Homo sapiens: one gene and its partners. The protein of the gene in region 4 purifies or fractionates together with the protein of the main gene of each other region. This does not show direct contact. Each region holds a gene or a part of one and is shown on either strand. Other genes may lie near its edges.

Region 1 (3,500 bases), on a different chromosome or scaffold from region 4:
ATTCATATTAGGATGATTTATGTAATAATTTACAATGAAGTTATATCCATGACTTACTATTGAATGCTTATTCAACACAGGAAGAACAAAGTTATTAACTTCTCTGAACTTTTACCATATACAAACTCACCTTCTTATTACATGTAACAGGCAAATTCCCAACAAACACAGTTCTCTCATTCTTTAATCTCTCTTCTTCTTGGTTGATTTGAATTTTCTTTCTTTGACTGACAACTGTGTCTTCTGTGTCATCAAGTATTTTTCTATCTGCTACTTTAACACCAGGTTGAGAATTTTTCCTTTTCTGCCCTTGTTTCTGGTGAATTTCTTCTTCTAAATCAGCACTCGCTAGAGCGCTTTCCCTTTTTAAGGCAAAAAATAAAATAAGCAGTAAGAGTCATGCCAGTTAGGTCTAGTATTTGACAAAGCACAGCCCTACCCTCCCGACTAGAAATATTTCCCAATGTCTTCTGAATTTTCCTAGATTTACTACTCACAAATATATCAAAATTTTTAGAGCAGCGCTATCTAGAAACTGACTAGTATCTTTAGAAAAAAAATGATTTAACTCAAGATTTAGAAAAAGTTAAGCTCTTTTTTTTTTTCTTTGAGACAGGGTCTTGCTCTGTCACCCAGGCTGGAGTGTAGCAGCGTAATCACAGCTCACTGCAGCCTCAACCTCCCAGGCTCAGGCAATCCTCCCACCTCAGCCTCCCAAGTAACTGGGACCACAGGCGCATGCCCCCACACGTGGCTTTTTTTTTTTTTTTTTGAGACGGAGTTTTGCTCTGTCACCCAGGCTGGAGTGCAATAGTGCAATTTCGGCTCACTGCAACTTCTGCCTCTCGGGTTCAAGCGATTTTCCTGCCACAGCCTCCCAAGTAGCTGGGATTACAGGTGGCTGCCATCATGCCAGGCTAATTTTTGTATTTTTAGTAAAGACGGGGTTTCACCATGTTGGCCAGGCTAGTCTTGAACTCCTGACCTCAAGTTATCTGCCCACCTTGGCCTCCCAAAGTGCTGGGACTAAAGGTGTGAGCCACCATGTCCAGTCTTTTATACATACATATACATATATATATATATATATATATATATATATATATATATATATATACATATATACTTTTTTTTTTTGAGACAGAGTCTAGCTCTGTCTCCCAGACTGGAGTATAGTGGCGCAATCTCGGCTCACTGCAACCTCCGCCTCTCTGGTTCACAACGATTCTTTTGCCTCAGCCTCCCAAGTAGCTGGGATTACAGGCACCTGCCACCAAGCCCAGCTAATTTTTTTTTTTTAGCAGAGACGAGGTTTCACTGTGTTGGCCAGGCTGGTCTCGAACTCCTGACCTCTTGCTCCGCCCGCCTCAGCCTCCCAAAGTGTTGTGATTACAGGCATGAGCCACCGCGCCCAGTCTCCTTTTATATTTTTTTGTAGAGACAGGGTTTTGCTATGTTGCCCAGGCTGGTCTTGAACTCCTAAGCTCAAGCCATTCGCCCACCTCAGCCTCCCAAAGTGCTAGGGTTACAGGCGTGAACCACTGCACCTGGCAAGAATAAGTGAAGCTCAATTTTTGAACACGTTAAATCTGCCATGCAACAGCAGCAGCAAGTTCATCTATACAAAAGCTGATTCACTTAAAGCTCTTGGAGATTTAGTTTACACTCTATCAATGCCTGATTTCATTTTCTACTCTAGACCTTTAGGGGCACTATCACACTCCCTGAGAGTCTAAAAAGGTTAATATGGCAGCAGAGTACTTACTCTGTACAAGCAATATGGCTGATAGGAAAAACCAGATTCCCTACTTCTAATACTTCTGTAATATTTAAAGGACTCTTACCAAAAGTAAATTGTGAAACGGTAAATACAATATAAAGTATTGCTGGATATGGATAAGCAAGGTCTGAGCATCAATCTGAAAGGAGAACTAAAGGATATTAAGGAGTGAGGGAAGAGAAGAGCTAATAAGAATCATAAAAATGACTCACTCATCAGCAAATACTTACCGGGTTCCTACTCAGTTCTAGGCTCTGAGGATACAAAGATAAAGAAACAATCAAAGGCCTCCAACAGTGCAGTGAAGAGACAGACCAAGTTCACAATAAAATGGTAACAGCTATAATACATGGTATGCAAACATAAACGAGAAAGGCTTCTCAGAGGAGGAAATCAGTGTCTGGCACATAGTCCAATAAAAGCTGACTGCTATTACTCCTCCCCTGAGGACAGGGTCCATGTCTAGTGTTTTGCTCACTACAGTATATAAAGTACCTAGCAGGTGTGAAAGGAAACGAGACAGTACAGTAAGGTGGGAACCAGGTCAGGAGAGACCTTCAGTGTTACACGAAAGTGCTTAGATTTTATCCTACTGAAGATGAGGAGACACTGAAGACTTTGAGAGCATCTAAAAAAGATCATCTGGGCAGAAGAGTGGAAGATAATTAGAAAGAGGATAAGGTTGGAGAAGGGAGACCAGTAAGGAGATGGTTACAACAGTGTGTATCTGAGAAGACTGACCAGACTGACCAGAGCAGGGAAGGAGGTGAAGACGAAAAGGCAGATTAAAGAGATAATTAAAAAACAGCATCATCAGGACTCGGCAACTGATTAGCTAAGCAAGGAGAGGAAAGAAGACAGGATGACTCTCGGGCCACTAACTTAGGCAACTAGAAGGCTAGTGGTAGCGCTCATGCCAAGGAACAGGACTGATGAGAATGATGAGCTCCCAGTGGAGCATTCTTACCTGGTGGTACATATGGAATAAAGAGGTGCAAATGCCAGGAGGCAAACAAACATACATGTCTGGAGATCAGGAGAGAGATCACGGTGGGCACAAGAGATACTGCCCCCAACAAAGGGTGACAAAGGGTCACAAGAACATGACCAAGAATGAGACCCCTGAGGGAAATGCACATTTAAAGAGTAGTCAGAGGAAAAGATACCACAGTAACACTAAGAAAGAATTGGCAAGAGGACAATCAGAAGAGATTTCTCTCAGAGAATCCGGTAGCTTCAACAAGAAAAGCAGCCACGTGAAAGGTAACAGAGGACTCATAAGACAAAAGCTGCACTGCCCATTACATATGAGAGGTCAGGGTGGCCTCAGTGGGCACTGCTTCAGTGGCACAGTCAGGACGGAGAATAAAACCCACCACCACCAGAATCCAAGTGCGTGGAAGGGTGAACAGATCAAGAGAAGGGAGAGAGTACAAGAACAGACTACTTTTCTTAAAAGCTAGACTGAAGGGAAGGACTGTGGGAATGGTAGCAAACAGAGACATGCAATTACATGGGTTTTTTTTTTTGGCGGTTAGGGGGAATGTCCTTTTTAAAGATTAGAATCGTGAGCACGTCTATATTAGCAGAAAGAGGGATAAGGGCCAGGCGCGGTGGCTCACGCCTGTAATCCCAGCACTTTGGGAGGCCAAGGCGGGTGGATCACCTGAGGTCAGGAGTTCAAGGCCAGCCTGGCCAACATGGTGAAACCCCATCTCTA
Region 2 (4,166 bases), on a different chromosome or scaffold from region 4:
CAAAGCCAAGAGTACAGCAAATATAAAGACAGAACAGGAAGGTGAGGCATCTGAGAAGAGCTTGCATCTGAGCCCACAGCATATCACACACCAGACTATGCCTATAGGACAGAGAGGCAGTGAGCAAGGCAAACGTGTGGAGAACATTAATGGAACCTCCTACCCTAGTCTACAGCAGAAAACCAATGCTGTTAAGAAATTACATAAATGTGATGAATGTGGGAAATCCTTCAAATATAATTCCCGCCTTGTTCAACATAAAATTATGCACACTGGGGAAAAGCGCTATGAATGTGATGACTGTGGAGGGACTTTCCGGAGCAGCTCGAGCCTTCGGGTCCACAAACGGATCCACACTGGGGAGAAGCCGTACAAGTGTGAGGAATGTGGGAAAGCCTACATGTCCTACTCCAGCCTTATAAACCACAAAAGCACCCATTCTGGGGAGAAGAACTGTAAATGTGATGAATGTGGAAAATCCTTCAATTATAGCTCTGTTCTGGACCAGCATAAAAGGATCCACACTGGGGAGAAGCCCTATGAATGTGGTGAGTGTGGGAAGGCCTTCAGGAACAGCTCTGGGCTCAGAGTCCACAAAAGGATCCACACGGGGGAGAAGCCCTATGAATGCGACATCTGTGGGAAAACCTTCAGTAACAGCTCTGGCCTTAGGGTCCATAAAAGGATCCACACAGGTGAGAAACCTTACGAATGTGATGAGTGTGGGAAGGCCTTCATTACTTGTAGAACACTTCTCAACCATAAAAGCATCCACTTTGGAGATAAACCCTATAAATGTGATGAGTGTGAGAAATCTTTTAATTATAGCTCTCTTCTCATTCAGCATAAAGTCATCCACACTGGAGAGAAACCTTATGAATGTGATGAATGTGGGAAGGCTTTCAGGAACAGCTCAGGCCTCATAGTGCATAAAAGGATCCACACAGGAGAGAAACCTTACAAGTGTGATGTCTGTGGCAAAGCATTCAGCTATAGCTCAGGCCTCGCAGTCCATAAAAGCATTCACCCTGGGAAGAAAGCCCATGAATGTAAGGAGTGTGGGAAATCCTTTAGTTATAACTCACTACTTCTTCAACACAGAACTATTCATACCGGAGAGAGACCTTATGTATGTGATGTGTGTGGGAAAACGTTCAGAAACAATGCAGGCCTCAAAGTCCACAGGAGGCTCCATACTGGGGAAAAACCATATAAGTGTGATGTGTGTGGGAAAGCCTATATCTCACGCTCTAGCCTTAAAAATCACAAAGGAATCCACCTTGGGGAGAAGCCCTATAAATGTAGCTATTGTGAGAAATCCTTCAACTACAGCTCTGCCCTTGAACAGCATAAAAGGATTCATACCAGGGAAAAACCCTTTGGGTGTGATGAGTGTGGTAAAGCTTTCAGAAATAATTCTGGCCTTAAAGTACATAAACGAATCCACACTGGGGAACGACCTTACAAATGTGAAGAATGTGGGAAAGCATACATCTCTCTCTCGAGCCTTATAAATCATAAAAGTGTACACCCTGGGGAGAAGCCCTTTAAGTGTGACGAGTGTGAGAAGGCCTTCATCACATACCGAACCCTTACAAACCACAAAAAAGTTCATCTTGGGGAGAAGCCCTACAAATGTGATGTGTGTGAGAAATCTTTTAATTACACATCGCTCCTTTCTCAGCACAGAAGGGTCCACACTAGAGAGAAACCCTATGAATGTGACAGGTGTGAGAAGGTCTTCAGAAACAACTCAAGCCTTAAAGTTCATAAAAGAATCCATACTGGGGAGAGGCCCTATGAATGTGATGTGTGTGGAAAAGCCTACATCTCACACTCAAGCCTTATTAACCATAAGAGTACCCACCCTGGCAGGACACCCCATACATGTGATGAATGTGGAAAAGCTTTTTTCTCAAGCAGAACTCTTATAAGCCATAAAAGAGTCCATCTTGGGGAGAAACCCTTCAAGTGTGTTGAGTGTGGGAAATCTTTCAGTTACAGCTCTCTCCTTTCTCAGCACAAGAGGATCCACACAGGGGAGAAACCCTATGTGTGTGATAGGTGTGGGAAGGCCTTCAGGAACAGCTCAGGCCTCACAGTGCATAAAAGGATCCACACAGGTGAGAAACCCTATGAATGTGATGAGTGTGGGAAGGCATACATCTCACACTCAAGTCTTATCAATCATAAAAGTGTCCACCAGGGGAAGCAGCCCTATAATTGTGAGTGTGGGAAATCCTTCAATTATAGATCAGTCCTTGACCAGCACAAAAGGATCCACACTGGAAAGAAGCCATACCGATGTAATGAGTGTGGTAAGGCTTTTAATATCAGATCAAATCTCACCAAGCATAAAAGAACCCATACTGGAGAGGAATCTTTAAATGTGATATATGTGGGAAGTTATAGTGGCACATCCCAGAAGAGAACCTATGAGGGAGGGAATGCCCTGGATGGGGGCAGGATGAGGATGCCTCTGTAGCAGGCAGAGCTTACCAAGTCTCTCCGAACTCAAATGGAAGAAATACCTTATGAATGTAAGAATGTAGGGGGTCATGGCTTGTAATTTACACAGTGTAAATGAAACCATCCTAGAGGATTATGAGGAATCCTTTCTATGTGATTTTCAATCATAGCAAGCAAGAAAGGCTCCAGTGTCAAGGTAGTTCAGCTCTTACAGGATATAAAACAGTCCATACTTGAGAGAAAAACTTAGATCTGAGTGATGGAATGTGAAGCAAATCTTCAAAATCAGTAGACATTTCTGGACATAAAACACAGATGAGGAAAGGGCTTCAATTAGAAGTTACGTAATCACCATCAGAAAGTTCATGTTTGGTAAATTCTGTTACTAGAAATGTAGGAAATTCAGGTATAGCTTTGAATCCCAATTACACATTGGTCAGTGGGAAAACTAAGGGCCTCCAACAGGCAAATTCAGGGAGGATAGGTTTCAGGGAATATAAATTTATTTAATATTAGTGGTCTTTAAGTATAAACTTGATGTAATTGGTTTGGGAGGGGGCAGTGATGATGACTTCTGAAACAAAATTTGGATTTCCTTTTAGGAAAAGTAGAAAGCATAGACTTACAAGTCTAACAGGAGATAGGAGAGAGTCACTCATAAAAAATGCAAATTGATGAACGTACTATTGTGATACATTAGTTGAATGGATGAAACTTTTTTAAAGTTTCAGATGAACTCCCATAATGAATGATGAATTTGTGATGAGGGATAACCTGGAAGTGGTATTCACACATTATGCTACAATAAAAGGTTCTACCGTGGAGAGGATTTTGACACATTCAGTAACTAATGGAACACACCGTCAACATGAATTCGCACCTTACATGACAGAAGTGATTCAGGGATTCCTATGAATAGAAATGCTGAGAAGGAACGCATTTTATTGCAGAAGCTAAAAAGCTAAAGTACCAGTCATCTAGAGAGAAGGAAATTAATGTTTCTTAATAATCCTGTTAAATGTTTGATTGTTTTTGGAATGTGTTATTGTAAAGATGTCATGCAGGACATGTATATGTTGTCTGTTGTAAAATGTTAACGAATACTTTGTTCAGGGCTCACTCTCTCTTTGTCATGAAAGCCAGCTCCTTGTGGCGAGGTAAAGTGGAATTCCAATAAAGAAATTCCTTAAATCAAAACGGGCTGTGAGTTTAGATGGAGGATACCCAAGAGCCATTTGTGTGCCAGATCTTTGTTGGGTAAGTTATACCAGATCCAAACCAGAGAGGGTAGTAGACTCATCCCACAGGGCTAGCAGCTCAGCTGGTTTCACCAGAAGTTAGAAGGTGCCTCCCTAGGAGGAGCACAGGATAGATTTTGAGGGGACCACAGTGGAGCCATGTGATCGTCGTTACTGGGCCAGATCCTAACTCGGGAGCAGGTAGGTTGTGTGAGTGATCAGTCACCACACACAGCTCTGTCAGGAACATGTAGAATTGAACATAAACTACTGCTGTGTATGAAGCTGTTAACTAGGTAACTCAAAGGGTAAAAATAGACTCTTCTGAGAATTGAGTAACCTGTCTGAGAATACTGTGAGTGGGCCAATCAGCAAAGGCTGAATTTGAAGTCTGGTATCTGGTTTCAAAACCCATTGTCTTTACAAGAGAACAATCTCAGCCATGTAGTTTCCCATCTC
Region 3 (3,500 bases), on a different chromosome or scaffold from region 4:
ACTTGGGAGGCTGAGGCAGGAGAATCACTTGAACCCGGGAGGCGAAGGTTGTGGTGAGCCAAGATTGTGCCACTGCACTCCAGTCTGGGCAACATGAGCAAAGCTCCGTCTCAAAAAAAAATTAAAAATTAAAAATTAAAAATAAATAAATAAAAAGCTCTTGAGATCAGTGGTGAGATGCAGTTCAGTTCCTGTTGAAATGCATTTATTGCTTCCTGATAAAAGTCCAGTGGGCAACCATTACCCGTCTGTGTGTACACATCTAAACACAACTGCCAGCTTTCCCAACAATCAACCTGAACAGCCACATCCTTTGAAAACCCTTACTGGTTTGACTGCCAACCTATAGGTAACCAAAGTGAAGTCTTTACGCAGATGCCACAGCTTGCTTCCACAGCTGAGCTAAGATAAAACATTTCAACTCTCCCTCTAGAGGGTTTTGGGGTTACAGTGCAGTGGCAAAATGAGAAGGATCTTGTGATGTGGGGAAAGAAACCAAGGGAAGCCTGGGTGGCTCCTAATCCTCCTTACTAATGGGAATTCTCTATGATTTCCACTTTTCCATCCTTATCTCCACCCTATTTCCCCACACAGCTAATATTCCTTTTGAGCCAGAGAAGCCAACATTCCTTGAACTGTGCCATGGTTTTGCTCCCTCAATTCCTGGAATTCCACCTCCTCTGTACCCTTCCACATCTTTGCCAGCAGGAAGCTGGGATAGAACCTCTTCTCCTCCCAATGTAACCATATGCCCAGTAATTCCATACTGCTCCACTGTACCTGAACTTTATTCACAGCTGGCAAACCTCTGGGAAGGAGAACCCACCCCACTTTGGTCACTAATACAGTGTCCCATGGTAAGCGGCACCTACCTGGGGAATGCCTGCTGAGTTAAAACCCAAAAGACAGAATTTACTGGCACCTGCTCCAGGGATGTGCCAAACCTGTAGCATCTGCCTCAGCAGGAAACACTAACCACACTGTCTACAACCCTCTGACAGGATATCCAGACAGCCATGACCACTGCACTGTCTGGTGAGGAGGGGGGACTTCAGGGCCAGAGAAGGAAGAAATGGTTCAGGGAGAAAATGCCTCCCACCTTCAGTCACTCCCCTTTTCTCCCTTTTCCCAGGTATGTTGCTCTCAATCCTTTCTACAAGTCTCCTTGTTCAGCTGTTGGCAGAACCATTCCTTAGTTTTCAAGGGTTATGCTGCCAGAGTCCCACAGCAAGGTGCTCTGCAAGGGAGCAGCACAATCCCTTCATTAGCACTGGGGTTTTAACTGCTTTCTACCTTGACCACATCCATGTATTTTGTCTGCACGGGGAACAGTGGGATATCCTCATCTTTCTTGAGCGTTTTGTAAATCTTCTTAAAGTTGATCACATCCTCAGGCCCAATGAGCATCAGACTGAGGCCTTCATTGGTAGCTCGAGCAGTTCGACCACTTCGGTGGACATAAATCTCCGAGGTACGTGGGACCTGCCACAGGAAGAACTGGGAGATCAATACATGGCCACTGCCAAACACTGGTCCTCTCCTCAGGGCCACATCCCCAAACCAGACCCTCCTACCTCCCAGCCAGGCAGGTAGAAACTTCTGCAGCATTGTAGAGCAATCTAGCCCTCCTCTCTTAGTCCCACATTCAAAATGTTCCCAGGTTTAGCCCATTCACTGTGTAGGCTCTTCCCTCCCATGCCCCTGACCCTGGTTCAGGTCCTCAGGACCATGCAGCCAGACCACAGCAGTCACTTCTTATCCAGGATTTAAGCAGCCCAGCTCCACAGACCATGTTAATCCCTGGGTTATACGGTCTCTACTCCTATATATATTTTATCCATAGATAATGTGGCATGGTTGCTAACACACCCACTGAGCCCCTGGCACACACCATTAATCAAGCACAACAGTCTTCTCCACTGGGCCCAGATAACATCTAGGTATCCTTTTCAATACAGTACTTTAAGTAGCCACTATGAACTGTTCATAAGAGTTCTAGAAATGAGATTTGCCTTTCTTTACTTACAGGATAAAGGCCCAACTCTTCAACCTGACACTCAGCGCCTTTAGTGACTTGCCCTCAACTTACCCCTCCAGCCTCAGCAACTATTCCTTTCCCAACACATACCCTCTTCTCACTGTGAGCCAAGTGCCCCTGAACACTGCCCATTTCTTTGCTCCTTCCTTTAATGCCTCTATATGTCCAAATCCTCTTCACCCTTAAATGCCAGGCATGTTTTTAGAAAGTACTTTCCAACCTCCCAAACTAGAAGTTACCTCTCTCTTCCATTGTATTTTGTAATTTTCTAATACCTTCTGCCTTAAATTATGGCTGTGGTCATCTCACCTCCTCTGCTGGATCCAATACTTCTTAGGGGCTGGGACTGTATTTGATTCATCTTGACTCCACAAAGGTTGACCCAGCTCCTTCCCCAAAAAAGGGAAGACTATAGAGATTTGCTAAACCAAAATTAGCACCTGTGATACAGTGAAATATGTATTTGCTCTTCATCCTGTTTCCTGGCAAAGGAATCTCAAAAGTAATGTCTTTTTGTATACTAATGACAAACTATTGACTGATGGCTGATAGCCCCCCAGGTAGTTTCAGGATGGGGGCTGGTCACCAGAAAGGCCAAGGCAGGATTAGAAGGTTGGGACTTGCAGCACTACTTCCTAAAGGCCAATGGCTTAATTAATCATCTTACCCAATGAAGTCTCCATAAATATTCCTAAAGGACAGAGTTTGGAGAACTTTTGAATAAGCTGAATATGTGGACATTCCTGGAGGGTGGTGTACCCAGGAGGGGCATGGCAACTCCATGCTCCTTCCCCTGTACCTCAGCCTATACATCTCCCCATCTATATTCTTTGTAATATCCTCTATAATAAACTGGTAAATGTGTTTCTTTTAGTTCTGAGAGCTGCTGTAGCAAATTAATTGAACCCAAAGCGGGGGGTCATGAGAACCCCAACTTGAAGCTGGTTGGTCAGAAGTTCCAGAGGCCCTGACTTATCGACTGGTTGCGGGGAGGAGGGACATCTTGTGGGATCTGAGGCTATCTCCAGGAAGACAGCATCAGAAAATGAAACTAAATTAGAGGACACCCAGCTGGTGGCTGCTGCTTGATATGTGGTGAAAAACGCCCACACATTTGGTTACAGAAGTCTTCTATGTTGATTGTTGTTGTGAAGTGAGAGAATGGGAAAAAGCACTGTGAGTTTGTTGTTTCTCTGAAACAGCAGCCTAAAAGATTTTTAAAAGCACAAAGAGGAATTAAAGAGGAAAAATGATAATGCCATACCAGCTACCATTTATTGAGTACTTACACTGTGCTACCGGCTTCATCAGCATCAGCTCAATTTAATTCTCAGGATAACCCTATGGGGTAGCTAGTTGTTACTTCCAGTTTACAAACAATGACACTGAAACCAGAGGTACTAAATAACTTGCCTAAAGCTAACCAACTATGAAGCAGCAGACTGGGGATTCAAAGCCTGGC
Region 4 (3,285 bases):
AAAACTGTCTACCAAAGCAACAGTCACCATGCAGAACAAAACGCCTGATCTTTGTTTTCATGCAATTAACCCCTAAGGTTTCACAGATATGTACACAACAACATTTATCAAATTATACACTTACATGTCACAAACAGGCAAAGATTTCTGGTTACATGATAAAAGATTTATGTATATTACAGAGCTTTCTATGAAGTCTCTGGAAGTTTCAAATTATAACACTCTTACTTTTATATATTAAAAAAGTCCAGTTGTGAAAACTGCCCAGGTACCATAAGCCACAGGATATCAGGGCAGAATACAGAATTATATACAGATAGACTGCCAGTTACATATGCTGAAAATTGGTCTTATCTGGTCACAGCTAAGTTTCACTGAATTTACTAAGGCCCTTCCATTTATAGCTAATTCATCTCTGGAAGAATCTCTGCAATGAGTTTTCTTCTAACAACATTCTGACACCTTACCTATAGCACTTCACTTTGGTGCAGTCTTTTTGAATGTGTCCGAATTCTCCACAAGAATAGCATTTCTGCTCATCTGCATGGTCGCAGTCACGAGCCAGATGGCCTGGTTTGCCACAGTTGTAGCAGCATTGCTCTCGCTCTCTCTTGGGCTCCTTGCAGTCCTTGGCAATGTGGCCACCTCTACCGCAGTTATAGCAGGCTTCAACAATAAGGAAAAGAAACAGGCCAAGACTATAAAACCTTTACAAAGTGTTACGTTTTAAATTATACAATACAAAACCTCAAAGGTGGAAATGCTATACACAGTTGCATGTGCTCACCTCTCCAAGCTCTAGAGGGGTATGAAAAGGAAGTGTTAAATACTTACCATCCTCCTGAAGATCACAATCCTTGGCAAGATGACCAGACTCACCACAGCGATAACAAATGTCTGGAAGAGACGAGGAAACAAACTGGAAACCTGTTTTGAGCAAAAACAAAGAATTCGGCTAGTCAGACCAGTCTTGATACTAACAAATACTGAAGTACTTCAAATTTTTCTATTCGACAAAATACCTCTATCCGAGGTAAAACCACCTCTGCCACGGCTTCTCATTCCACGACCACGGCCTCCACCAGTAGGACATTCCCGGGCCCAGTGGCCAGATCGTCCACACTTGAAGCACTCATTGCTGCTCATGGCTGCAGTCAGATCTTTGAAATATTAAAAGTAACAGCATTAAACCACTGAAAGTTCTTTTAACTTTTATTCTCTATTAAATGTATTTTTGGAAAATTATTCTGGGGAAAAAAGCTAGCTAATATATTGGTTAAAAAAATAGCTGGGCATGGTGGCTCACGCCAGTAATCCCATCACTTTGGGAGGCCGAGGTGGGTGGATCATGAGATCGAGACCATCTTGGCTAACATGGTGAAACCCCGTCTCTACGAAAAATACAAAAAATTAGCCCGGTGAAGTGGCAGGCGCCTGTAATCCCAGCTACTTGGGAGGCTGAGGCAGGAGAATGGTGTGAACCCAGGAGGCGGAGCTTACAGTGAGCTGAGATGGTGCCACTGTACTCCAGCCTGGGCAACATTGAGACTCTGTCTCAAAAAAATAAAATAATCACACAACTACATGATTGGGTATTATAGACTTATTATAATATACACCTTGATAAAAGTGATGGAATTTACAGGGTTAGGGTCAATGAAAATCCATTAAGAGAAATAATTGGTAGTGGCTGGGCACGGTGGCTCATGCCTGTAATCCTAGCACTTTGGGAGGCTGAAGCGGGTGGACCATCTGAGGTCAGGAGTTTGAGACCAGTCTGGCCAACATGGCGAAACCCCGTCTCTACTAAAAATACAAAAAACAGCCGGGCATGGCGGCATGCGCCTGTAATCCCAGCTACTCAGGAGGCTGAGGCAGAAGAATCGCTTGAACCCGGGGGGTGGAGGTTGCAGTGAGCCGAGATCATACCACTGCACTCCAGCCTAGGGGACAAAGTGAGACAGACAGGCAGGCAGGCAGGCAGGCAGGCAGGCAGACAGGCAGACAGGCAGCCAGGCAGGCAGGCAGGCAGGCAGGCAGGCAGGCAGACAGACAGACAGACAGACAGACAGACAGACAGACAGACACACACACACACACACACACACACACACACACACACTGGCAGTAATACTCATTCACTCATTCCAAGTCCAACTTAATGGACACATTTGCATGGTTATAAGGCCTATATAAGCTTTATTTTGGGCAAATAGAAGTCATTTATTTACTCACATCAAAAAATTGGAATAACCCAAACCAATGAAGCTGTAAAATGGATTCTCGGAGTGAGGAGTCAGTGAAGGAAAATACTCTCTTAACCTTAGCACCTGACGTAGTACCTAGTTATACTGCAGCACTTGCCTGGTGACTGAGATATTCCTTAGAACAGATATGTTAAAACAAATGCAAGATACAAATCTTATCTCTAGATGGTACAAGTACAGTAGGCCCTCTATATCCATGGGTTCTGCATCCATGGCTTCAACCAACCTTGGAATAAAAATATTCAGTGGAAAAGTTGCATCTGTATTGAACATGCAGACTTTTCTTGCCATTATTCCCTAAACAATACAATGTTAACAACTACTTATTCAGCATTTACATTGTGTTAGGTATTATAAGTAATCTAAAGATGATTTTAAAGTATATGGGAAGATGTGCAAAGGTTGTAATGCAAGTACTACACTATTTTATATTGGGAACTTGAGCATAGGAGGATTTTGGTATTTGAGGGAGTTTGTGGAACCACTTCACAGATACCAAGAGATGACTGTATAATAAAAATAGTAGGAAAACGACCATGAGTTACACCAAAGCGCTAATAATAGCACCTACAGCACTGGCAACATTTGTGTTTTGTTTTCTTTTATTCTCCCCTTTCCAAATGTTTCTGTAATGTAATTTTACATTTTAAACAATGCTACTTAGAATTTCATAATAAACTCCTTTAATTGGTTATCATTTTAAAATAAAAATAAAACTCCCACTAAAGCAAATGGATTTTGTACTTATGTAACAATCTAAAAATAAATTGAGGCTATTCTTAAAATAGAATGAAATGGAATAGAACATAATGAAAACAATGCAACTACATTTTCACACTTCCATATCTAAATATTTTTACCCTTAATTCCACTGTCAAACAATGGCACACAAAGTCGTATTTTAAATATCCTCTCAAACCTAAGCACAGGCACCATCATCTAGAAAAACATATTTCCAACTGAGTAAAACTTGAGTGGATAATCGAATTAGCTAACCTAACCACAGTGCCAAAGACCC
Region 5 (3,500 bases), on a different chromosome or scaffold from region 4:
TTAGGTATATACCACTACTTGGGAAGCTTAGTCTGCCCCTGCCCCAACCTTGGGCTGGGGAAAATGGTGTGGGACAACATATTCCTAAGAGCAAGCCAGGATTCTCTGGGGTTCTGCAGGATGGAACTTGAGATGAAAGAGTTATCACTCCCCTGAAGGAAAGCTCCATTTCTGAACCCAACAATGTACTATTTCACCTCCAAGGCAGGAACAGTGCTAACTGAACACCCCTCTCCTGTTCTCACCTTGGGATCCTCAGGTGGCTCTGAGAGGGGTGGGGGGTGGAGAACAGACAGGTACCCTTGAATTTACATAGTATAAAGCTATAGGTGTGCAAAAACTGGAAATGGGGAAGGAGGCAGAAGACTCATAGCTTCCATTAGAATACCAAGGGCTCGCCGGGCACGGTGGCTCAAGCCTGTAATCCCAGCACTTTGGGAGGCTGAGGCGGGTGGATCAGGAGGTCAAGAGATCGAGACCATCCTGGCAAACATGGTGAAACCCCATCTCTACTAAAAATACAAAAATTAGTTGGGCATGGTGGCGTGCGCCTATAGTCCCAGCTTCTTGGGAGACTGAGGCAGGAGAATTGCTTGAACCCAGGAGGTGGAGCTTGCAGTGAGCTAAGATGCACCACTGCACTCCACCCTGGGCGACAGAGCGAGACTCCGTCTCAAAAAAAAAAAAAAAAAAAAAAAGAATACCAAGGGCTCCATGATGACTTAAAATCCTACCCAGCTCGATACTGTTTCAGGGCCTTCTTGCTTGTGTTGGTGAGTTCTTCATCAAATACAGATTTCTTCCCCTGCTTTTGCTTCTTGGCTGTGCACAGAGAGAATGGGTTACATATGGTTGTCTTTGGCCCAAGCTCCTAAATCCCCTTAAGTTCAAGGTAATGATTCCAAGTTCAGTGGATACTCTGGCATCCAAAGACTATTTTCATTCTGTCCTCACCAGCTCCTCCAAGTAGCAGCTGGTGAGGCCTTAGGCTCCGGAGTCAGAAAAGCTGGCGTTCAAATCCTAGTTCTCAACAACCACAAGGTCACTGCGCCCCTTAGACCGTGGAGGGATAGCTGTACACATTGGTACATACTAATTACTCAAATAATGTGGGCTACTGTCATCATCCCTCAGATTTTCTCCCTGACCCAAAGCACAGGTTTCAGGGAAAACCTTGTACAAGCTCCTTTGGGCTCCCCATTCACCTACCAGGACCTCTCACTGGCTCCTCCTCGGGCATTGCTCGGGCCCGCTTGGCTCTGCGATTCCTCTTCGCTAGCCGTTCAGCAAACATCTGCGCCTTGAGGATTTCAAACTGAGACCTTTCCTCTGCCTAGGGGGAGTGGGGAGGTGTGAGTGTGGAACACACCAGGCCACTCTGACCCACCCCACCGAGTGGGCCCAAACTCCAAAAGGGAGGCCACTCACTGTCATCTCCCCCTTTTTTTTGGCATCCTTCATAAACTTCTTCCTTTTCTTCTTTCCTCTTAAGGCCAAGTCAAATTCCTGCAGAGCTTTGGCAACTGGGATGAGAAGAAAGCATAAGATTTCAGGGATGATTTTATCTTTTTTTAAGCTTACGATAAGAAGTGCACGTTTTCAATTGGTAAGTTAGCAGATTAAAATGAAAAGCGGCAAGCACTTCTTGGCCGAGTGCAGTAGCTCGTGCCTGTAGTCTCAGCACTTTGGGAGGCTGAGGTGGGTGGATCACCTGAGGTCAGGAGTTTGGGATCAGCATGGCCAACATGGTGAAACCCCGACTACTAAAAATACAAAAATTAGCTGGGCATGGTGGTGCACCTGTAATCCCAGCTACTTGGGAGGCTGAGGTGAGAGAATTGCTTGAACTTAGGAAGGGGAGGCTGCAGTGAGCTGAGATCGCGCCACTGCACTCCAGCCTGGGCGACAGAGCGAGACCCTGCCTCAAAAAAAAAAAAGAAAAGAAAAGCCGCAAGCACTTCTTCCACTGATTACCTCCATCTCACTAAATAACATGCTTTTTTGACTATTTCTCAATCCACTTAAGATACTCATTACAAACCTCCTGCTATGAAGGATGAAGATTTAGGTCACTTTACTACTTTACCCACCAATACAGTTATAACTCTATTTTTATCAGAAATTTAAGTTATATACACCCTTATTTTGTCCCATCAAATATAGACAGCATTTCTAAAACTGCTGGTATACCCTCTAGGAGGGAAATTTTGCAACCTCTAACAAAACTAGAAATACAAATATCCTCTGACCCACTATTCCACTTTTAGGAATTAATCCTGCAAGCCAAATATACACTTGCTTAATTGTAAAAGGGCATATGTGCAAGGTTATTCCCTACATCACTTGTTTGTAATGACAAATGATTATTTTTTGGGTTTTTTGTTGTTGGTGGTGGTGGTTTGAGTCGGGGTCTCATTCTGCCGCCCAGGCTGCAGTTCAGTGGCAGAATCTTAGCTCACTGCAACCTTGACCTCCCCAGGCTCAGGTGATCCTCCTACCTCAGCCTCTCAAGTAGTTGGACTATAGGCATGCACCACCATGTCTGGCTAATTTTTTGATTTTTAGTAGAGATGGGGTTTTGCCATGCTGCCCAGGCTGGATGACAAATGATTGTAAACAACCTCAATGTCCCTCAACAATCTACTCATATGATGGAAGAACATGAAGCCATTAAAAAAAACAAAAAGGGGGCCGAGTGCAGTGGCTCACACCTGTAATCCCAGCACTTTGGGAGGCCAAGGCAGGCGGATCACGAGGTCAGGAGATCGAGACCATCCTGGCTAACACGGTGAAATCCCATCTCTACTAAAAATACAAAAAATTACCCAGGTGCGGTGGCAGGCACCTGTAGTCCCAGCTACTCAGGAGGCTGAGGCAGGAGAATGGGGTGAACCCAGGAGGCAGAGCTTGCAGTGAGCCGAGATTGCGCCACTGCACTCCAGCCTCAGTGACAGAGCAAGACTCCGTCTGAAAACAAAAAACAAAAAGGGCAGCATATGTGGGCCTATATAAAACATATCTCTAAGCTTCAAAATTAAGTGAAAAGGCGAGGCATAGAACAATGTGAACTTATAAGTGTTTTGGGTCTTTTTTAAAGGGAGATGGAGAGGAAATCTGTATTAAATATCTCCTAACTTTTTTAAAATTATTTTTATTGTGGTTATATATACACATATAAAACAAAGGCTGCCATTTTACCCAATCTTAAGTATACAATTCAGTGGCATTACTTACATTCACAACATTGTACAACCATCACCACTATCTGTTTCCAAAACTCCTATCAGGAGGCTACTCACTGACATCATTGAAAACAGAAGCTCTGCAACCACTAATAATTTCCTATAACCCCCCTTCCCCTAGCCCTAAGTAATCTATAATCTATTTCTGTCTCTGTGAATTTGCCTAGCTAGATATCTCAGGTAAGTGAAATCAGACAGTATTTGTCCCTTTGTGTCTGGATTATTTCATTCAGCTTAAGATTTTCAAGGTTCATCCTT
Region 6 (3,500 bases), on a different chromosome or scaffold from region 4:
GAGGGGAGACATGAGGGAGTGAAGAGAGGAAAAAAAGAAAAAGAATATAAATGTATCAGCCAGGCGTGGTGGCTCACGCCTGTAATCCCAGCACTTTGGGAGGCTGAGGCAGGTGGATCACCTGAGGTCAGGAGTTCACGACCAGCTTGACCAACATGGAGAAACCCCGTCACTACTAAAAATACAAAATTAGCTGGGCATGGTGGCACATGCCTATAATCCCAGCTACTCAGTAGGCTGAAGCAGAAGAATCGCTTGCACCTGGGAGGCAGAGGTTGTGGTGAGCCAAGATCGCGCCATTTGCACTCCAGCCTGGGCAACAAGAGCGAAACTCTGTCTCAAACAAAAAAAAAAAAAAAAAAAAAAAAAAAAAAGGTAAACATGGTAAATTATATGGGTATACTTTAACTCAATAAAAAATAAACTAGGCCAGGCATGGTGGCTCACACCTGTAATCCCAGCACTTTGGGAGGCCAAGGCAGGCAGATCACTTGAGGTCAGGAGTTGGAGACCAGCCTGGCCAATATTGTGAAACCCCACCTCTACTAAAATACAAAAATTAGCTGGGTGTGGTAGCGGGTGCCTGTAGTCCCAGCTACTTGGGAGGCTGAGACAGGAGAATCACTTGAATCTGGGAGGTGGAGGATGCAGTGAGCCGAGATCATGCCACTGCACTCCAGCTGCCCTGGGCTACAGAGCGAGACTCCATCTCAAAAAAAAAATAAAAATAAATAAATAAATAAAAAAACTAAGCTGGGTGCAATGGCTCAAGCCTGTAATCCCAGCACTTTAGGAGGCTGAGGCAGGCAGATCCCTTGAGCCCAGGAATTCAAGAACAGCCTGGGCAACATGGCAAAATCCTACCTCTATTAAAAATACAAAAAATTAGCCAGGTGTGGTGGTGTGCACCTGTAGTCCCAGCTACTCAGCAGGCTGAAGTGGGAGAATCACCTGAGCCCAGGAGGATGAGGCTGCAGTGAGCAGAGGTTGCGCCACTGCATTCCAGCCTGGGCAACGGGAGTTAGGCTCTGTCTCAAAAAAATTGTTTAAATAAATAAGAAACTATTCAAAGCCAAAGATTTTGTTTTAAACTAGAAAGCTTCAGAAAAGTGACATATTACATTACAGGAAATGATTTAAATGACCATGGGTTTCTCAACAGAAACCAAGAATGCCACAAGGCAGTACAGTATCTTTAAAATCGAACCAGTGTAATGGCTCACATTTGTAATCCCAGTACTTTGGGAGGCCAAGGCAGGGGGACTGAGCCCATGAGTTCAAGACCAGCCTGGGCAACATAGCAAGACCTTGTCTCTACAAAAAATAATTTTAAGGCTGGGCGCGGTGACTCGCGCCTGTAATCCCGACACTTTGGGAGGCCGAGGTGGGCAGATCACAAGGGCAAGAGATCAAGACCATCCTGGCCAACATGGTGAAACCCCATCTCTACTAAAAATACAAAAGCTGGGCGTGGTAGCATGCGCCTGTAGTCCCAGCTACTCGGGAGGCTGAGGCAGGAGAAATGCTTGAACCCGGGAGGCGGAGGTTGCAGTGAGCCAAGATACACCACTGTGCTCCAGCCTGGTGACAGAGCGAGACTCTGTCTCAAAATAATAATAATAATAATTTTAAGAACTTAATTGTACATTTTTAAATAACTAAAAGAGTGTAATTGGATTGTCTATAACACAAAGGATAAATGCTTGAGGGGATGGATATCCCATTCCCCATGATGTGATTTCACATTGTATGCCTGTATCAAAACATCTCATGTACCACATAAATATATATCCTTACTATGTACCCACAAAAATAAAAATAAAAAAATTTTAAAGCAATTATCCAGGTGTGGTGCCATGCAACTATAGTCCCAGCTACTTGGGAGGCTAAAGTGAGAGGATCCCTTGAGCTGAGGAATTTGAGGCTTCAGTGAGCTATGACCGCACCACTGCGCTTCAGCCTTGGCAACAGAGTGAGACCCTGTCTCTAAAAAGAAAAAAGAAAAGGAAAAAGAAATATCTTTAAAATTTTGAGAGAAAAAATTTGTCAACTCAGAATTCTATATTCAGTGAAAATATCCTAAGAAATAAAACTAAGAGAATTCATTGTAAGCAGACCTGCTCCATATGAAATGCTAAAACAAATGATTCCAGCTGAAGAAAAATAATACCAGAGAGAAACTTGGATTTTTAAGAATGAAGAAAGAGCAACAGAAATGGTAAACAGGCCGGGGTAGATGGCTCACACCTCTGTAATCTCAGCTACTTGGGAGGCTGAGGTGGGAGGATCACTTCAGCCCAGCAAGCAATGAATGTGCCACCAACTCCAGCCTGGGCAACAGAGCAAGACACTGTCTCTTAAAAAAACAAGAGTAGGGGCAGACACTAAGCATTCAAATAATCCAAAAGAAGAAACACAGGAACAAAAAACAATGGATAAACAGAGAACAAAAAATAAAAGGGCAGACCTATCCAACCATATCAATAATTAATTTAAATGTTTACAGTCTAAACACTCCAGTTAAAAGTCAGCAAATGACAGAGTAAAATAAAAAGTGATACCCTACTACATGCTACCTACAAGAAGCACACTCTAAAATATAAAGACATCTATAGATTGAAAATAAACAGATGAAAAAATTGTATCATACAATCAGCAAACATAAGGCTGGAATGACTATTTTAATATCAGATAAAACAGACTTCAAGACAAAGAGTACTGCCAGAGATAAAAAGAGACACTTCATAATGACAAAAGTGTCAAATCATTGGGAAGGCATAATTACCCACTGTATGTGCCTAATAATAGAGCCTCAAAATACACAAAGCGAAAACTGACAAAATTAAAGGGAAAAATAGACAATTCCACAATCTTAGCAGAAAATTTAAGACCTCCCCCTTTCAGCAACTGATAGAACTAGATAAAAATTCAGTAAAAGACATAAATGATCTGAACTGCACTATTAGCCACCTTGCTCTAGTTAACATTTACACAACACTACATCTAACAACTGCAGGATATATATTCTTTTCAAGTGCACATTATGCATTCATTAAGCTAGATCTTACGCTGGGCCATCAACTTTAACTTTTATTAAAAGGATGAGAATTACACAGTGTATTCTCTGACCACATTGGTATCAACTTAGGAGTCAATAATAGGAAGATATCTAAAAACAAAAAACACAAAAAATCCAAATATCTGCAAATTAAATAATCTACTTCTAAATAATTCATAGGTCCAAAATGAAATCACAAATGAAATTTGAAAATATTTTGCACTGAAAAACAACAAAAATATGCATATCAACATTTGTAGGATGCAACTAAAGCAATACTTAGAAACTTAAAGCTTTAAATGCTTATACTAGAAACGATCTAAAATCAATGACTTAAGATTTCATCTTAAGATACCTTAAAAGGAAAAGCAAAGTAAACCAAAGAAAAGGTAAGGTAAGAGGAGAAACCCATGAACTAGAAAACAGACAATAGGGGAAATGT
Region 7 (3,256 bases), on a different chromosome or scaffold from region 4:
GAGGGCTGGGCAGTGTCCTCCCCCTCACAGCCACCTCCCCTCTCCCACACAGCCGACGACAACGCCACCATCCGTGTCACCAACTTGTCAGAGGACACGCGTGAGACCGACCTGCAGGAGCTCTTCCGGCCTTTCGGCTCCATCTCCCGCATCTACCTGGCTAAGGACAAGACCACTGGCCAATCCAAGGTGGGCAGGCAGGCAGGCACGGTGGGGCTGTGTGAGGGTCACTTGTCCTAGGGTCGCCTGTCCTAGCTCGTGCCCGACCCCATCCCGCCCCTCCACAGGGCTTTGCCTTCATCAGCTTCCACCGCCGCGAGGATGCTGCGCGTGCCATTGCCGGGGTGTCCGGCTTTGGCTACGACCACCTCATCCTCAACGTCGAGTGGGCCAAGTAAGACTCCATCCCTGCCCCAGCCCCTGCTCCCTGCCTTGTCCCAGCACCTTCACGGAGTGTTGGGCCAACCAATAGCCCTGAGCCAATTTAACAGTCCCCCGGCTGGTTTTGAGGGGACAGTCCTTTATTGTTTTTTTCCAAAACCGGGCAGAGGGGTGGCAGCTCTTGTGCCTGGGGTCCCTGCCAGTCCGTGGACCAGGCCTGGAGACTGGCCATCTGGCTCCGTGCCCGCTTCGTCCTCACATTACCCCGTCCTCTGCCCACCCACCCCCAAGATGCCACTTGGGTGTCTGGGGTCTTGGGGTGCCCCCAGAAGTCTTATACCTGCCACCCTCCCCTACCCCAGGCCGTCCACCAACTAAGCCAGCTGCCACTGTGTACTCGGTCCGGGACCCTTGGCGACAGAAGACAGCCTCCGAGAGCGCGGGCTCCAAGGGCAATAAAGCAGCTCCACTCTCTCTACTTGGTTCTTTTTGTTCTTGCGTCTCCAGTCCTGTGGCGGGGGCCAGTGCCTCCCCTCCTCTGGGCGTGGTCTGGTCCCTGACCCTGCAGGGAGCCCTGTGGCCAGCGCTGTGGGTGGGAAAGGCGACTGCTCCTGCCTGGGCTGCAGCTGGGCCTGACCTGGCTGCAAGCACAGGTGTTGCTTTTTGGGGGAAGGGATGTGTCGGGGCTCGGGCCCTGCCCTCAGGGTTCTCCAGCAACACCTAGGGTGAGGAGGCAGCTTCCGCTAGGCCACATCATTGGCTCAGCTCACGGGACTGGGGCTCTGACGGTTTAGGGGCGGCTGTGGCATTGAGGGGCAGGGCTTGGCCAGTGCTCTTGGCGTCCTCTGGGTTCCAGCTGTCCCTGTAGCCGGGGCAGTGTCGGCAGCAGCAGCCCAGGCTGGGCACTGCGGCCATGTAGAGTAGAGGGTGGACACAGAAGGCCAGGGGCATGAGGCCCCGCATCACCTGGTAGCCCACGTAGGGCCCCAGCTCCAGGGCTGCTGTGGCCTGGGCTATGTCTGCAAAGCTCGGGCAGCGGGTGCTCCAGCGCCGCCGAGCATCCACGTTGAGCACCCGCATGATGTGGTAGGGCACATAGGAGCTGGCGTAGAGGGCCACACCACTGGCCACCAACGCTGCCACACGCAGCTTCTCGGCCACAGTCATGCCTGGGCTGCGTAGCACGGCCCGCCCGAGGGCGCCGTAGGCTGCCAGCGTGAGCAGCAGCGGCAGGCCGCAGCCCAACCCCGCCAGCACCAGGCTATACGCTCTGTAGGCCGCCAGCCCGTGGTCTGCTGTCCCCAGACACTTGATGCAGGCCTCGGGCCTGGCCACGCTGCAGTTGCCCGCCCCCTGCTGCGGCCTCTTCAGGTGGGAGAAGCTGAGTGTGGGCATGGCCAGCAGGGCGGCCAGGACCCAGCCGGCAGCGCTCACGGCCCAGGCGTGCTTGGGTCGCAGGTGGCTTCGGGCGAAGAAGGGGTGCACGATGCCCAGGTAGCGGTTGAGGCTGATGCAGGTGATGAAGATGACGCTGCCCAGCAGGTTGCAGGTGAAGAGGAAGCGCTCCAGGCGGCACGCGGCCTCCCCATAGCGCCAGTGCTTGGGGGGATAGAGGTAGGCGGCCAGCGGGGGCAGCGTCAGGGCGCAGAGCAGGTCGCTGACTGCCAGCTGGACAGAGAAGACCACGGCGGGGTGCCATGGGCGCTGCTTCCGGATGCTGAAGCGGTACAGGGCCAGGCCATTGCTGGCCACGGCCACCAGGAACTCAACCACCAGTATGGGCCACAGGAAGTCCCCCTGGAACCCACTGAGTTTGTCGTCGGCAGCTGCCAAGAAGTTGGCAGGGCAGGACTTGGCACCTGTGGGCAGAAGGTGTCACCAGCTGAGCCCTATTCCCCCATAAGGCGGCTCCTGCTACCCCAAGAGCCCACGTCTGCCATGGCGTGGATCCCTGGACACGAGTTCTTTCCCCTCCCTGGAGGGGGACCGGGCTCCACTCCTTTATGTGGACAGGATTGAGGCTCAGAGCCAGGGTTATGCATTGGGCCCCAATGGACCAGCTTAGGCGGGCCAGGCAGTCTTGGAGCTCAAGGTCCACTGGTAACACAGACAGCGGCCACCCTACTCCCCCACCACACCTGGCCCCACTAGAGGCCTCCTCCCCAAAGTCCAGCCCCAGCAAGGCCTGCCGGCTCCACTTCAGATCTGTGCCGTCCAAAGCCCCGTGGGGGTCCAGCCCCCACTCTGCCCTGACCTTGGCACCCGCCGCCGCCCAAAGCCTCTTCTCCCCGTGGCCACCAGAGAGCACCCGCGAGCGCTGGAGTCCTGCCCCATCCTTTTGCTTCCAGGTGCTCACACTTGGCCAGGGAGTTGCCGCCAAAAAGCCAGACTCACCCCACAAGGTCCCCCAAGAGCGCTCCCGCCCGCCATACCCCCCAGTGCCACCCTCTGTGCTCCGCGACTCACTCCCTCGCACCAGCCCACCCAGGCTTCCTGGCTGCTCTTGCAGACTTGTGCCTTGGTACCTTCGCACCCAGACTTTTTTTTTTGAGACAGAGTCTCACTCTCATCACCCAGGCTGGAGTGCAATGATGTGACTTCAGCTCACTGCAACCTCTGCCTCCCGGGTTCAAGTGATTCTCCTGCCTCAGCTTCCTGAGTATTTGGGACTACAGGCACCCACCACCACGCCTGGTTTAATTTTAAATTTTGCATTTTTAGTAGAGATGGGGTTTCCCCATGTTGGCCAAGAGGTCTCGAATTCCTGACCTCAGATCTGCCCGCCTCAGCCTCCCAAAGTGCTGAGATTACAAGTGTGAGCCACCGTGCCCAGCCACACCCAGACATTCTTGAGGCTCCTCTTCCCACGTCCGTG

Evidence for each region.
Region 1: the proteins of CNBP (region 4) and RBM34 purify together in Homo sapiens (affinity purification with mass spectrometry; 2 studies listed by BioGRID and IntAct, with this or other methods). This does not show direct contact.
Region 2: the proteins of CNBP (region 4) and ZFP62 purify together in Homo sapiens (affinity purification with mass spectrometry; 2 studies listed by BioGRID and IntAct, with this or other methods). This does not show direct contact.
Region 3: the proteins of CNBP (region 4) and DDX24 purify together in Homo sapiens (affinity purification with mass spectrometry; 2 studies listed by BioGRID and IntAct, with this or other methods). This does not show direct contact.
Region 5: the proteins of CNBP (region 4) and DDX27 purify together in Homo sapiens (affinity purification with mass spectrometry; 2 studies listed by BioGRID and IntAct, with this or other methods). This does not show direct contact.
Region 6: the proteins of CNBP (region 4) and ZNF512 purify together in Homo sapiens (affinity purification with mass spectrometry; 2 studies listed by BioGRID and IntAct, with this or other methods). This does not show direct contact.
Region 7: the proteins of CNBP (region 4) and PPAN-P2RY11 purify together in Homo sapiens (affinity purification with mass spectrometry, with the first as the bait; 2 studies listed by BioGRID). This does not show direct contact.

What each region holds. Positions count from the first base shown.
Region 1 is NC_000001.11:235,154,751-235,158,250, forward strand, and holds part of RBM34 (RNA-binding protein 34), read right to left. Parts: exon of another isoform or gene 1,916-3,500; coding exon of another isoform or gene 1,845-1,915; intron 363-1,844; coding exon 131-362; intron 1-130.
Region 2 is NC_000005.10:180,847,111-180,851,276, reverse strand, and holds the end of ZFP62 (zinc finger protein 62 homolog), read left to right. Parts: coding exon 1-2,485; 3' UTR 2,486-3,194; coding exon of another isoform or gene 3,195-3,214; 3' UTR 3,215-3,666; downstream 3,667-4,166. UniProt on the Homo sapiens protein: May play a role in differentiating skeletal muscle.
Region 3 is NC_000014.9:94,053,703-94,057,202, forward strand, and holds part of DDX24 (ATP-dependent RNA helicase DDX24), read right to left. Parts: intron 1,483-3,500; coding exon 1,294-1,482; intron 1-1,293. UniProt on the Homo sapiens protein: ATP-dependent RNA helicase that plays a role in various aspects of RNA metabolism including pre-mRNA splicing and is thereby involved in different biological processes such as cell cycle regulation or innate immunity.
Region 4 is NC_000003.12:129,170,612-129,173,896, forward strand, and holds part of CNBP (CCHC-type zinc finger nucleic acid binding protein), read right to left. Parts: intron 1,161-3,285; 5' UTR 1,147-1,160; coding exon 1,023-1,146; intron 928-1,022; coding exon 835-927; intron 673-834; coding exon of another isoform or gene 667-672; coding exon 468-666; intron 1-467. UniProt on the Homo sapiens protein: Single-stranded DNA-binding protein that preferentially binds to the sterol regulatory element (SRE) sequence 5'-GTGCGGTG-3', and thereby mediates transcriptional repression. Has a role as transactivator of the Myc promoter.
Region 5 is NC_000020.11:49,239,916-49,243,415, reverse strand, and holds part of DDX27 (probable ATP-dependent RNA helicase DDX27), read right to left. Parts: intron 1,524-3,500; coding exon 1,429-1,523; intron 1,334-1,428; coding exon 1,210-1,333; intron 823-1,209; coding exon 735-822; intron 1-734. UniProt on the Homo sapiens protein: Probable ATP-dependent RNA helicase. Component of the nucleolar ribosomal RNA (rRNA) processing machinery that regulates 3' end formation of ribosomal 47S rRNA.
Region 6 is NC_000002.12:27,589,542-27,593,041, reverse strand, and holds part of ZNF512 (zinc finger protein 512), read right to left. Parts: intron 1-3,500. UniProt on the Homo sapiens protein: May be involved in transcriptional regulation.
Region 7 is NC_000019.10:10,112,617-10,115,872, reverse strand, and holds the end of PPAN-P2RY11 (PPAN-P2RY11 protein), read right to left. Parts: intron 2,241-3,256; coding exon 1,135-2,240; 3' UTR 760-1,134; coding exon of another isoform or gene 744-759; 3' UTR 501-743; downstream 1-500. Other genes in the region: EIF3G (eukaryotic translation initiation factor 3 subunit G), read left to right, coding at 53-189, 288-394, 744-759; P2RY11 (P2Y purinoceptor 11), read right to left, coding at 1,135-2,240. UniProt on the Homo sapiens protein: May have a role in cell growth.